Linked DNA regions of Homo sapiens. The protein of the gene in region 1 purifies or fractionates together with the protein of each later gene. This does not show direct contact. Each region holds a gene or a part of one and is shown in the gene's direction. Other genes may lie near its edges. The genes, in order: FBXO45, SPRYD3 and ARHGEF2.

Region 1 (3,749 bases):
AATATTTGAAGGTTTCGTTGTAGAAGAGTTTAACATTAACTCCTATTTTGACTTACAAATCTTGTTTCTCATCACTAAAATGCTTTTGAATTAATAATCCAACCCACATGAGCTGAGAGTTTTTCTTTTGTTAGAAAAGAAACAGACATCTTTCTGTATGAAAGTATAAATTGTATGGTTTTAGATACATAAGAATTGACAAAAGCGAGCGAAATCTTTGTACTTCTGAGTTCTTGCTGTATGTATGTTTTGTTTTAAATCTGATTAGGGACACCCAGCAGCTGGCCGGGATTCTTGGATTGCTCCTTGGGAGTTAAGATTGTCAATACTCCTGTGAAGCAAGGGATTTCAGCCATAGAACAAAGATTTATTGTTGCCACCTGAAAAGTTTACAAGTATTTATTGTGTATTTGATACATTGCTTGAAAAGATGAAATCTGTTAAAGATTCTTTTCGATGTCCAGGTTAAGAAGAAACCTCCTTGTATTGAGTGAAATTATATGTTAAATGTATTAGAGAATGTAGGTGGTATAGAAATTGATTTTTCTTGGTGTAGAACAACTCAGTTCGGCAAAGTTTAAAATTTGATTAAACAAGAGAAGTGGTTCAGGTTGAAGATGGACTTGTTAGGAAGTGATCAAGTCCTTTAAGTACTTGTTTCTTTTTCAGGTTGTGATGTGGCCATTCCGAATTTTGTTGAGAGTTTGGTTTATAATTGTCTCTTTTGTCTTGTTAGTAAACATTCATTTGCAACAGTTTTGAAGGTGCTGAGTGGAAAACCGAAACACATGGTTATTGCGTATTGGACCTAGAATGAAATAATTGCCTCAATATTTAACAACAAGCCATTCTTATCTCAAAGATTTAAATTCCCGAATGTCCCATTCGCAAATCATATGCAATTGAAGTGAGCAGCATGAGCATCTGGGTCATGAGGGCCTTCATTTACGTAAATTTGTCACTAAAACCCAGTAGTAGCTCTACAAAATCTTAAACTGCTGCAGTGCTCAAGGAGATGGAATATCTTTGTCATTGGTGCTGAGGAGAGCATTTCGGTAGAAGACAGTTGCGCCTGAAGATTGAGTGTAAATCATTCAAACCAGTGGTTCTCAGTGTTGGCTGTATACACTTTGTAGTCACTTTGGAATGTTGGAAGACACATCGATGCTTGGGTTCCGTATGCCAAGATTCTGATGTTGGTCTGGAATATGAGCTGGTCATAAGGATTTTTAAAAACTTTCTGGTCATTTCAATATGCTGCCAAGGTTGAGAACCACTGTTGTAAAATTCACCTTGAGTTTTCTCATCTGCAAAATAGAAAAAAAAAAATCCTTGCTCCCTCCCTTCACTACCTCACAAGGATATTGAGGGTAAAGGAGAAAATAATGGGAAAGTGCTTGTGCCGTGGATGAAAAGTGCTATTAAAAGTCAAAGGAGTGTTCTGTTTCAATTCATAGTATGATCAGGGAAAGTGTAACTGAGTATACTTTGTTGACTTGGGAAACCTGGAGCACTTTCTTTGGTTGGTTAACGAAGCATGCAGATGTGGAAGCAGACGTTACTATTATCCCTACTATGGTCTTCTGTCATACTGAGACAGGCTGTTTTAATTACCTGGTTTTACATAGGAAAGAAGAAATATTAAGGCTTAAAGTTTGTAATGATCAATGGCTCATAATTCATTAAATCTTTTCATACAAGGAATTTGTGGTTAATGTCATTTCATAGTTGCCATTATTTTCTCATTATTTGACTTAAATGTTAAGCCATTTATTTCATCTCCCTCATTCACATAAAGTGTAGATATGGATTCAATAAGACACCAAAAGAAAGTAAGATTTACCCAGTTAATATTTAAAATCATTGTTCAGTGATTAGGCATTTTCTGCCTTTTAGAATTATTTGACTGGAGAAAGAGTTTCAAAAATAGCAGAGCCCTAAACCATAAAGAAACTACTACTGTATAATGAACTTTTGTTTGTTTTTGGAGACAGGGTTTCACTCTACTGCCTAGGCAGGTCTTGAACTCCTGGGCTCAAGCAGTCTTCCTGCCTCAGCCTCCCAAGTAGCTGGGATTACAGGTGTATGCCACTATACCCAGCTTTAACTTTTAAATCCCCAAACTATGTAGATTGTCATATTAATATTAATTTTTTTTTGTTATTTTGAAGAAGTGAGTAATTTGAAGAGATAGAAACTTAGGGAGTGGTGTGTGTGTTTCTTTTTTGGAGACAGAGTCACGCAGGCTGGAGTGCACGATCTTGACTCACTGCAACCTTTGCCACCCAGGTTCAAGCAATTCTCGTGCCTCAGCCTCCCGAGTAGCATGTGCCACCACACCTGGCTAATTTTTTTCTTTTTTCTTTTAGACGGAGTCTTGCTCTGTTGCCCAGGCTGGAGTGCGGTGGTGTGATCTCAGTTCACTGCAACCTTTGCCTCCCGGGTTCAAGTGATTCTCCTGCCTCAGTCTCCCGAGTAGCTGGGATTACAGGCACCTGCCACCATGCCTGGCTAATTTTTGTATTTTTAATAGAGACGGGGTTTCACCATGTTGGCCAGGCTGGTCTCGAACTCCTGACCTTGTGATCCACCCACCTCAGCCTCCCAAAGTGCTGGGATTACAGGCATGAGCCACTGTTCCCGGGCCTAATCTTTGTATTTTTAGTAGAGGGGGTTTATGCCATGTTGGCCAGGCTGGTCTTGAACTCCTGGCCAACACCACCCACCTCGCCTCCCAAAGTGCTGGGGTTACAGGCGCGAGCCACCGTGCCAGGCCAGAAATTTAAGGAGTTTTAAAGGTTAGCATTGAAAAGATTACTTTCCAGAAATTGAGACCACCACAGTTCCACAATTGGGACTGTGGTAGATAATCAGGACCACTTGGAAGCCTTTATTAGGAACAGCCCACACCCAGCCCAAATGCTGTCCTCAAAAACATTCCTCAGTTTCTCTAGCTGAATGTAATCTCTCCTTGAAATTTCCCTAGTTTTATATATCTATAGTTGACTCATGCTGTATTTATTTATACCTTGTTTAAAATTATTTATTGATTATTTATTGGTGTCATATCGCCCCTAAACTGGGACAGGATCTCTAACGGACTCATCTTTGTGCCACAACATGTAAGCCCAATAGGCAGGTGCTCACATATTTGCTGAAGGAACAGAGAAAGAACTGCGGAGAAAGACAAAAGCTCCTCTGAAGTTTTAGACTATAGAAGCAAAAATTATAGTAGCAAAAGATGAATGAGAAATTCTGTTCTAGTCCCAGTGAAGCAGGAAGGAAAGGGTTGCAAACTTGAGGCTGGTAAGGAAGAAATAATTACTGTGAATGCATTTAGCCACTCCCCTCTACTCAAAAATACTGGTAAACTCTGATTTTTATATTTGTTTAGAATTTAAATTAGAATTCTGTATCTTTATTTTTTGGAATTCTGTTGTTTTGCCTTAGTTTCTTAATAAAAAGTTAAACATTAACCACCTGTGATTGCTTACATTTAAAGACATTTTTTACACATTGGTTAGAAAGAAAAATTGGGGTGCCTTAATAGCCAGAGGTGGTGATGGAATTTACCTATAAATTCCATGGCTTTAATAATAGAATCCACATTCCCCATGTTTAGAATGGAAAGTGGACAGAGAACAGTAATTCACTAGGGTCTTATTTCCCAATTGCCTCTACCGCCCCCCACCCCACCCTCCTGCTGACATTTGTTTGATAATGCAGTTGTTTGCCAAGAATTATGAGAG
Region 2 (3,649 bases), on another chromosome or scaffold:
CAAGTAGTTCTGCTTTGCCTTTTTTGGTTCCTTCAGCTTCTGGTGTCTTCTACAGCCCTGCACAACTGCCTTTGAGGGGCTGGGGGTTGATCTGGAGGCAAAATGCCTGGCCCAGGCTTTTCATTCAAAGTGTTGTGGGGCAGGTGTGGTCAGAAGTCCACACATGTGGTGGAAGGTTCTTAGCCATCTTTTTTGAGGAAGTGTCAATGTCAGTTTCTATTGTCTTATCCCTGCATTTGATAGAGGATTAGAATGGAGGCAGATAAAGATTCAGTGAGCATCCTTACACCTCCAAACTTGCTTCATTTATCTTTTCCTCATACCTGCTTTAGTATGGATTTTAAGCTTCGTTGGGAAGCGTGTGGAGCTTGAGAAAGGGGAATTCTTCCTCCCCGGATTTTAAGTTTTGTTGGAAAATTCATGAACCTTGAGAAAGGAAAATTCTTCCTGTCTGCCTCAATACACTGTGCTGCATTGGGAGTGAATGGACGCCAAGTCCGGGATCTGGCCCTGACCTCTAGTGGGCTGCTCAGCCCTCCCACTTCGAATTGTCCCTCTCCTACCCCCTTGCTCCTGGCCTGGCCTTTTTCTCCACCCTCTGGCCTTTCCACCCCAACCCAGGCTGTTTTCAACTCAGTCTTTGATAACAAAACAGAAGCAGTGGGGGGTGGGAGCGGATTAGGAGCCAGGCCTCCCCCTGGTGGAGTGGAACTCAGGGAAAATGACAGGAAGTGTGCCCTCCTGCTGCTTCTGACACTCTGCACCCCCGTCTGGCATCAGGGTCCCAGGCTGCAGCGACCGAGAGCTAAGAGGCCTCAGATGCCCACTCCGTGACTCTCATGTCTTTCCTTTTTCCCCTCAATCTACCATCATTCTGACAACATCTACAGAGTTAAACTTGGGGCTGCGCCAGGGCGATGTTCCAGCTCTCATCTCTGACCTCTCCTCAAGAGTTTTTTCCTGGCATCCTTTCTCTGCCTGGACCTGTCCCCACTCTGCTCTCAGCTCCTCCCAGGCAATCTTTTCTAATTGATGCAGAATCCTGTAGACATTTATAAATAGCCTTCCTTCCTCCCCACCCTCCCCCCAACACCTTCAGCCACTTATTTAAGAGTGTTTTTCTTTTTTAGACATAAGCTGTTGAATTGGGCCCTTCTCTCAGACCCTCACCCCAGCTTGGGCCAGGTGGCAGGGTGGGAGCACTACTCCTGGGGCACCCGTTCCTCTGGGGCCAACTTGGATGTGAGCTTCCTGAGGGACATGTGCCTTTTTCCAGTCATGCCAACTTTCCTTTTTTTTTTTTTTTTTTTTTTAAGACAGGCTATCACTCTGTCACCCAGACTGGAGTGCTGGTTCACTTCAGCCTCCAACTCCCAGGCTCAAGGGATCCTCCCACCTTGGCCTCCCAAATTGCTGGGATTAGAGGCATGAGCCACTGCCCTGGGCCTCAACAGTTGTTAGATTTGAGTCTTTGGATATAGACAGACCTGGCTCTTTCTTGAGTGGAATTCTTCCCCTGCCTCCTGTGGCCTGTTTCCCCCTCCTAAAGAGTCTACCTCCTCAGAGCTCTGAGGGGTTGAGGAATTGCTGGGGCACTTGCCTCTCACCTCATCCCTGCCTCCAGGCCTCGCAAAGTGAGGTAATGTGGTGGAGGGGAGCTGGGGGCGGTAGGTAACAGCTGGGGGATTAGACTCATTCTGTGTTTGTGCCCTGTTCACAGCTCCTCTGACAACTCCTTAGTGACAGGGGCAACAGCTTTGGTACACACAGGGTGGTGAATGAGGCCCCGCCCTCCCAGGGGTCCTCCCCAGACCCAGCCCAGAGGGAGGCTGTGCTGGAGCCTGAGCTGGCCAGGAGAGTGTGTACTTGGTTCCTGTTTCAGTTGCTTCTGGGCCCTCAGGGCACTGAGCCCTTCCTTGCTCCTGTCAAGAGGGATTAGGGTCTCTGCTGGCAAGGGGAGGAGGGCGGATACCGGCAGGGGAGAAGAGGCTGGGAAGGTGCTACTGGTAGAGGGAGGGTGTGGAGTGCACGAGACTGTCCACACTCTGGTCTGCAGCCGCCACTCTGTGGCACTGAGTCATGTCTTTGGCTTCTTGGGGCTTTGGTGGTATGTGTGTATTAGGGGGAGACCCAAAGAAAGGGCTCCATCTTCCCCCACCAAAAATGCAGAGAAACATTTCTGTTGATTGGACATTGTTTGAGAGGAGACACATAGGGTAGAGTTGTCTGGGGAGTGGCCATCGTCCTGGTTGGCCTAAGGGACCATTGTAGTTGGAAGTAAGGGCTAAGATGAAAGATCATTTCCTTCTTTGTGATCGGCAATTCCAACGTAACCCCATTTACACTGATTTAGGGAGAGGCAGCAATGTGTATTGGTCACTTCATTAAGTCTTCCCACTTGTTTTTGGAAATTCAGGTAATCTTATCCCAGTTTACTGTTGAAGAAACCAAGGCTTAAGGAGGTGAATGTCATTTGCCTGAGGTTAGCGGCTGTTAAGTAATAGGAGTTAGGATTTGAACCCAGGTCTGTTGGATTCTGAGGTACAGGTTGAGGGACCAGCATCAAGATCCTAACAGTTCAGACTCTAAGGGTTAACCTTCACTCCTCCTCTAGGTTCCTAACAGCTATAGACCAAGGAGGCAGAGGAATGTACTCAAGAAAGAATCTGTCAGGGAGGCCAAATATTCCCCCCACTTCCACCCCTCTGAGTTCTCTGGGAAGGCTCAGGAGGGGTCGGGGGAGCTTTGTCCAGGAGCAGGAGAGTGGATCAGGAGGTTTATGATGGCTTTCACTGTGAGGGCTGGGCGGTCCCCTCTGAAGAGGGCACGCTGTACAAGCCTCACCTATACACTGTACAAGTACCTAGTCGTCCAGGACATCAGCATTCTGTCCGAAGTGCTCTGTGGTTGGCAGGTAGAGAGTGGGTTTTAAAGACCCATGTTGGGGTAGTCCGTCCTGGCTTTTAGCGTGAGAAAGCACCTCCACCCTATCCAGAGACAGAAATGCAGCAGCTACCCTCTTCTGAGCTGAGGCAAAGGGAGGGGCTGGCCGGGTATTTCCCAAGGATCAGGGTCTGGATCGGCTGTCTTTTGGCTCTGGAAATGGAGAACACTGTGTTTCCTACACCGAGGCCAGTTGGATAGAATGGGTCAAAGGCAGCTGTGGGGTCCCCCACCCAGTTCTGCAATGCTGGGTGGAGAGGGTGGGCTGGGGGCTGCTCTGCCTGGGTGGAGTCTAAACTAGTTAATGTGGATCAAGCCACACCCCTCCTGGCTTCCCGGGGAGAGAGGCAGAGGAGGAACCCAGGCTGAGCAGAGAATACACCATGAACAGAAGTCAAACAGTGTGGCCTTGGGGATGGGCTTAGGTGGTCTCCCGTGCATGCTGCTTTCCCCCTCATCCATCCCCAGTTATCTTTGGAGAGGAGGGAAGGATGGACTTGAGGTGGCGGGGCTGAGATCCAGGGCTGAGAAAGGCACCAAGCCCCTCTAGTCCTACTCTCAGAAGGGGTTAGTAGCACCCCGCTCTAAGCACCTGAGCTAAGCAGCGGCCGTCTGAGGCTGGGAGTGGGGATGCGGGAGCAGCCTCTGCTGGAGACACGCACAGGCTTCTGTGCTGGTGCAGGTGGGCATAATTCCTTTCCTGTTC
Region 3 (3,649 bases), on another chromosome or scaffold:
AATCCCAGCACTTAGGGAGGCCGAGGCGGGCGGATCACGAGGTCAGGAGATTGAGACCATCCTGGCTAACACAGTGAAACCCTGTCTCTACTGAAAATACAAAAAATTCGCCGGGCGTGGTGGTGGGCGCCTATAGTCCCAGCTACTCAGGAGGCTGAGGCAGGAGAATGGCGTGAACCCAGGAGGCGGAGCTTGCAGTGAGCCCAGATTGCACCACTGCACTCTAGCCTGGGTGACACAGCAAGACTCCATCTCAAAAAAAAAAAAAAAAAAGAATCAACCTCCCTTTATGCAGCCCATACAACAGTGAGACTCAGTGGGAGAGAAAAATAGGATCTCTGTGGCAGAAAAGCCTGAATTCTGCAGTTAACTTTATGGACCATACAGGGCCTTCCCTATCAGTATTTTATAATTTCTTTGGTCCTTGCATGCCTAGAGAGCTACTAGTTTTACTGAGGAAGACAAAGAAGCTCTCAGACTGGAGGACAGGATCAGTTGATTCCCCCAGCTGGAATCCCAGCTACCAGGGATGGGAGTAAGCAAGAGCTTTGGGGAGCGCAGCCAGAGGAGGCCCAGAGGAGGGGACTGAGCCGGTGAAGGACAGGCAGGGAGGAGAAGAGACAGCAGGGCAGAGGGAGCAGATCAGGGGCCAGGGCACACTTTCCCAGGCTCTCTTTCCAGAATTTGTCTGCACTGGCAAAGTCTTTCTCACCTAAATCAAAGCAAGAGAATAGCAGGCCTTGGCTTTGGGGATGAGATGTGAGGGACAATAGGAAACTGTGATACCTGAGGCCAAAGCCTGCCTGAGCCTCTGTACCTGTGTCATGAAATCCCTGCTCCCTGGGTTTGGATATTGTCAGTCTTCACCAGCCTCTTTCCTTTATCCCTTTCTCTCCTTCCCATCTCTCCCACGCAGCAGCTAAGAATATAAACCATGGGGGATTAAAAATAGCAAGGCTGGAGAGTGTTATTTCTGAAGCATTTAGCAAAAGCCCTCCCCTTCTGTGTGCCCACAGTTTAGTAAAATCCCCAAGGGCAAAGGAGGAGTGTATGTTTTCTCTCTCTTTTTTTTTTTTTTTAGAAACAGGGTCTCGCTTTGCTGCTCAGGCTGGGGTGCAGTGGTGCAGTCATAGCTCACTGTAACTCAAACTCCTGGGCTCAAGTGATCCTTCTGCCTTAGACTCCTGAGTAACTGGGACTACAGACCTGCACCACCACACCCAGCACATTTTTAAATTTTTTGTAGAGATAAGATCTTGCTATGTTGCCTAGGCTAGTCTTGCTCAGACTCCTGGCCTCAAGTGATTCTCCTGCCTCAGCCTCCCAAAGTGCTGGGATTGTAAATGTGAGCCACTATGCCTCGCCCTCTGTTTTCTTGATTGTGACATCCAAGTTTTATGGAATTGATCTTTGTTTCCTCCCTCAGTCTTGGAGTGCTGACCCCATAGGATCTGAGAGCTTGGAGTGTGAAGCAGAGAAAGAAATTGAAGCAGGGGCCTGCTGGGGTTGAAGGAGATGGGTGGGTGAGGGATGGTCTTTCAGTCCTCTGCGAGAGGAAGGAAACTTTCTCCCTCCCTACCAAGCTCAAAATTAGAAGTGGGAATATGCCAGGACAGGGAGAATTTAGGTCAGATAGCCGTAAAGGTCTTCCTTAGTTAGATATTAGAAATGGAATTTAAAGGCTAAAAAATGTGGTCCAGGCTGGGCACGGTGGCTCATCCCTATAATCTCAGCACTTTGGGAGGCTGAATCAGGCAGGCAGATCGCCTGAGGTCCGGAATTCGAGACCAGCCTGGCCAAGATGGTGAAACCCCATCTCTACTAAAAATACAAAAATTAGCCAGGCATGGCAGCATTCACCTGTAGCCACAGCTACTTGGGAGGCTGAGGCATGAGAATCGCTTGAACTCAGGAGGCAGAGGTCACAGTGAGCAGAGATCACACCACTGCCCTCCAGCCAGGGCGACAGAGCGATACTTGGTCCCAAAAAATAAAAAATAGGCCAGGCGCAGTGGCTGATGCCTGTAATCCCAGCACTTCGGCAGGCCAAGGCAGGCAGATTACTTGAGGTCAGGAGTTAGAGACCAGCCTGGCCAACGTGGTGAAACCCCGTCTCTACAAAAATGCAAAAAATTAGCCAGGTGTTGTGGCGTGCTCCTTAATCCCAGCTGCTCAGGAGGCTGAGGCAGGAGAATCGCTTTTTCCTGGGAGACAGAAGTTGCAGTGAGCCAAGATGGCACCACTGCACTCCAGCCTAGGCGACAGAGTGAGACTCCGTCTCAAAAAAATAATAATAGAATCAAATTAAATTAAAAATAAATAAAAAATAAAAGTATGGTCCCTCTTGCTCTGGGGAACCTTATGAATCTCACAAAAATCTTGGACCCTGTCACCCAAAAAAATACACGAGTTATGTTAATATGTAAAACTATTTACACACCTTCAGAAGGTTTACAGAGCCACTGAAGCCTGACATCCCAGGGGGTCTGTAGGCCCTAGGTTAAGAAACCTGAATCAGTCAGGTAGAAAGGGTTTTCTGTAGACACTGAGTGATCCCTGTGGTTCCTGCTAGCCCACAACGCTGTTTTGTCTGATAGCACATGAATCTTTCTGCACCCTGCCCGCCCCCCACCCCCCACCCACACTGTTTTTAAGCTGTAAGAATGTGTGACCAGGCGCGGTGGCTCATATCTGTAATCCCAGCACTTTGGGAGGCCGAAACTGGTGGATAAACCTGAGGTCAGGAGTTTGAGACCAGCCTGACCAACATGGTGAAACCCCGTCTCTACTAAAAATACAAAATTAGCCGGGCATGGTGGCACACGCCTGTAGTAGTCCCAGCTCCTTGGGAGGCTGAGGTAGGAGAATCGCTTGAACCCGGGAGGCGGAGGTTGCAGTGAGCCAAGATTGCACCATTGCACTCCAGCCTGAACAACAAGATGAAAACTCTGTATCAAAAAAAAAAAAAAAAAATAGAATGGGTGAGGTGTGAGAGGTCTGAAAAAGTGCAAGCAGCCAGAGGGAAGAGAGGCCAGGAAGAGGGAAACTGGGAGCTCTAACCTGATGGGATAAGCCTGGTCCTTGGGAAAGAGGGAAGCAGCTGCTCAGACCGTCTAGTGCTGACTGTTCTCCCACCTTCATCCCCTTCCAGATGTGCTAGTGCTGCTGATGACAGATGTACTGGTGTTTCTCCAGGAAAAGGACCAGAAGTACATCTTTCCTACCCTGGTGAGACATTCATTCTTCACCTTTCTCAGCACAGACAAGTGTTTTAGTCTCTTCTTGCTTTCCTGCCCAAGCCCACGAGAGCTCTGGAGTCCCCCAGAGTCAAACAGCTATAATTGTTACTATTACCGTAATAATAAAAAATAAGAGCAGCTCACAGGTACTGTTACTGTGCACAGGCACTTTTACACCTGTGGGAAAAGATTATTTTCGTCCTCATTTTATAGATGATGAAAGTAAAGCTTCAAGTCAGTTAAATAATTTGTCAAGGGTTGCACACATTTCTAAGTCCCTTCTGGCTGGCACCAGTGCCTGGCTCTTAACTGGTATTGTAAGATGACTCTTCAGTCCTTTCAGTCCTCGTCCAGAAGGATTGAAGGCCTAAATATGCCAAGGGACAGGATTCCCAGGCTTAATCCTTCCT

Evidence for each region.
Region 2: the proteins of FBXO45 (region 1) and SPRYD3 purify together in Homo sapiens (affinity purification with mass spectrometry; one large-scale study listed by BioGRID and IntAct). This does not show direct contact.
Region 3: the proteins of FBXO45 (region 1) and ARHGEF2 purify together in Homo sapiens (affinity purification with mass spectrometry; one large-scale study listed by BioGRID and IntAct). This does not show direct contact.

Annotation. Positions count from the first base shown.
Region 1 is NC_000003.12:196,585,584-196,589,332, forward strand, and holds the end of FBXO45 (F-box/SPRY domain-containing protein 1), read left to right. Parts: 3' UTR 1-3,476; downstream 3,477-3,749. UniProt on the Homo sapiens protein: Component of E3 ubiquitin ligase complex consisting of FBXO45, MYCBP2 and SKP1. Functions in substrate recognition but also plays an important role in assembly of the complex.
Region 2 is NC_000012.12:53,069,388-53,073,036, reverse strand, and holds part of SPRYD3 (SPRY domain-containing protein 3), read left to right. Parts: intron 1-3,649.
Region 3 is NC_000001.11:155,957,899-155,961,547, reverse strand, and holds part of ARHGEF2 (rho guanine nucleotide exchange factor 2), read left to right. Parts: intron 1-3,151; coding exon 3,152-3,228; intron 3,229-3,649. UniProt on the Homo sapiens protein: Activates Rho-GTPases by promoting the exchange of GDP for GTP.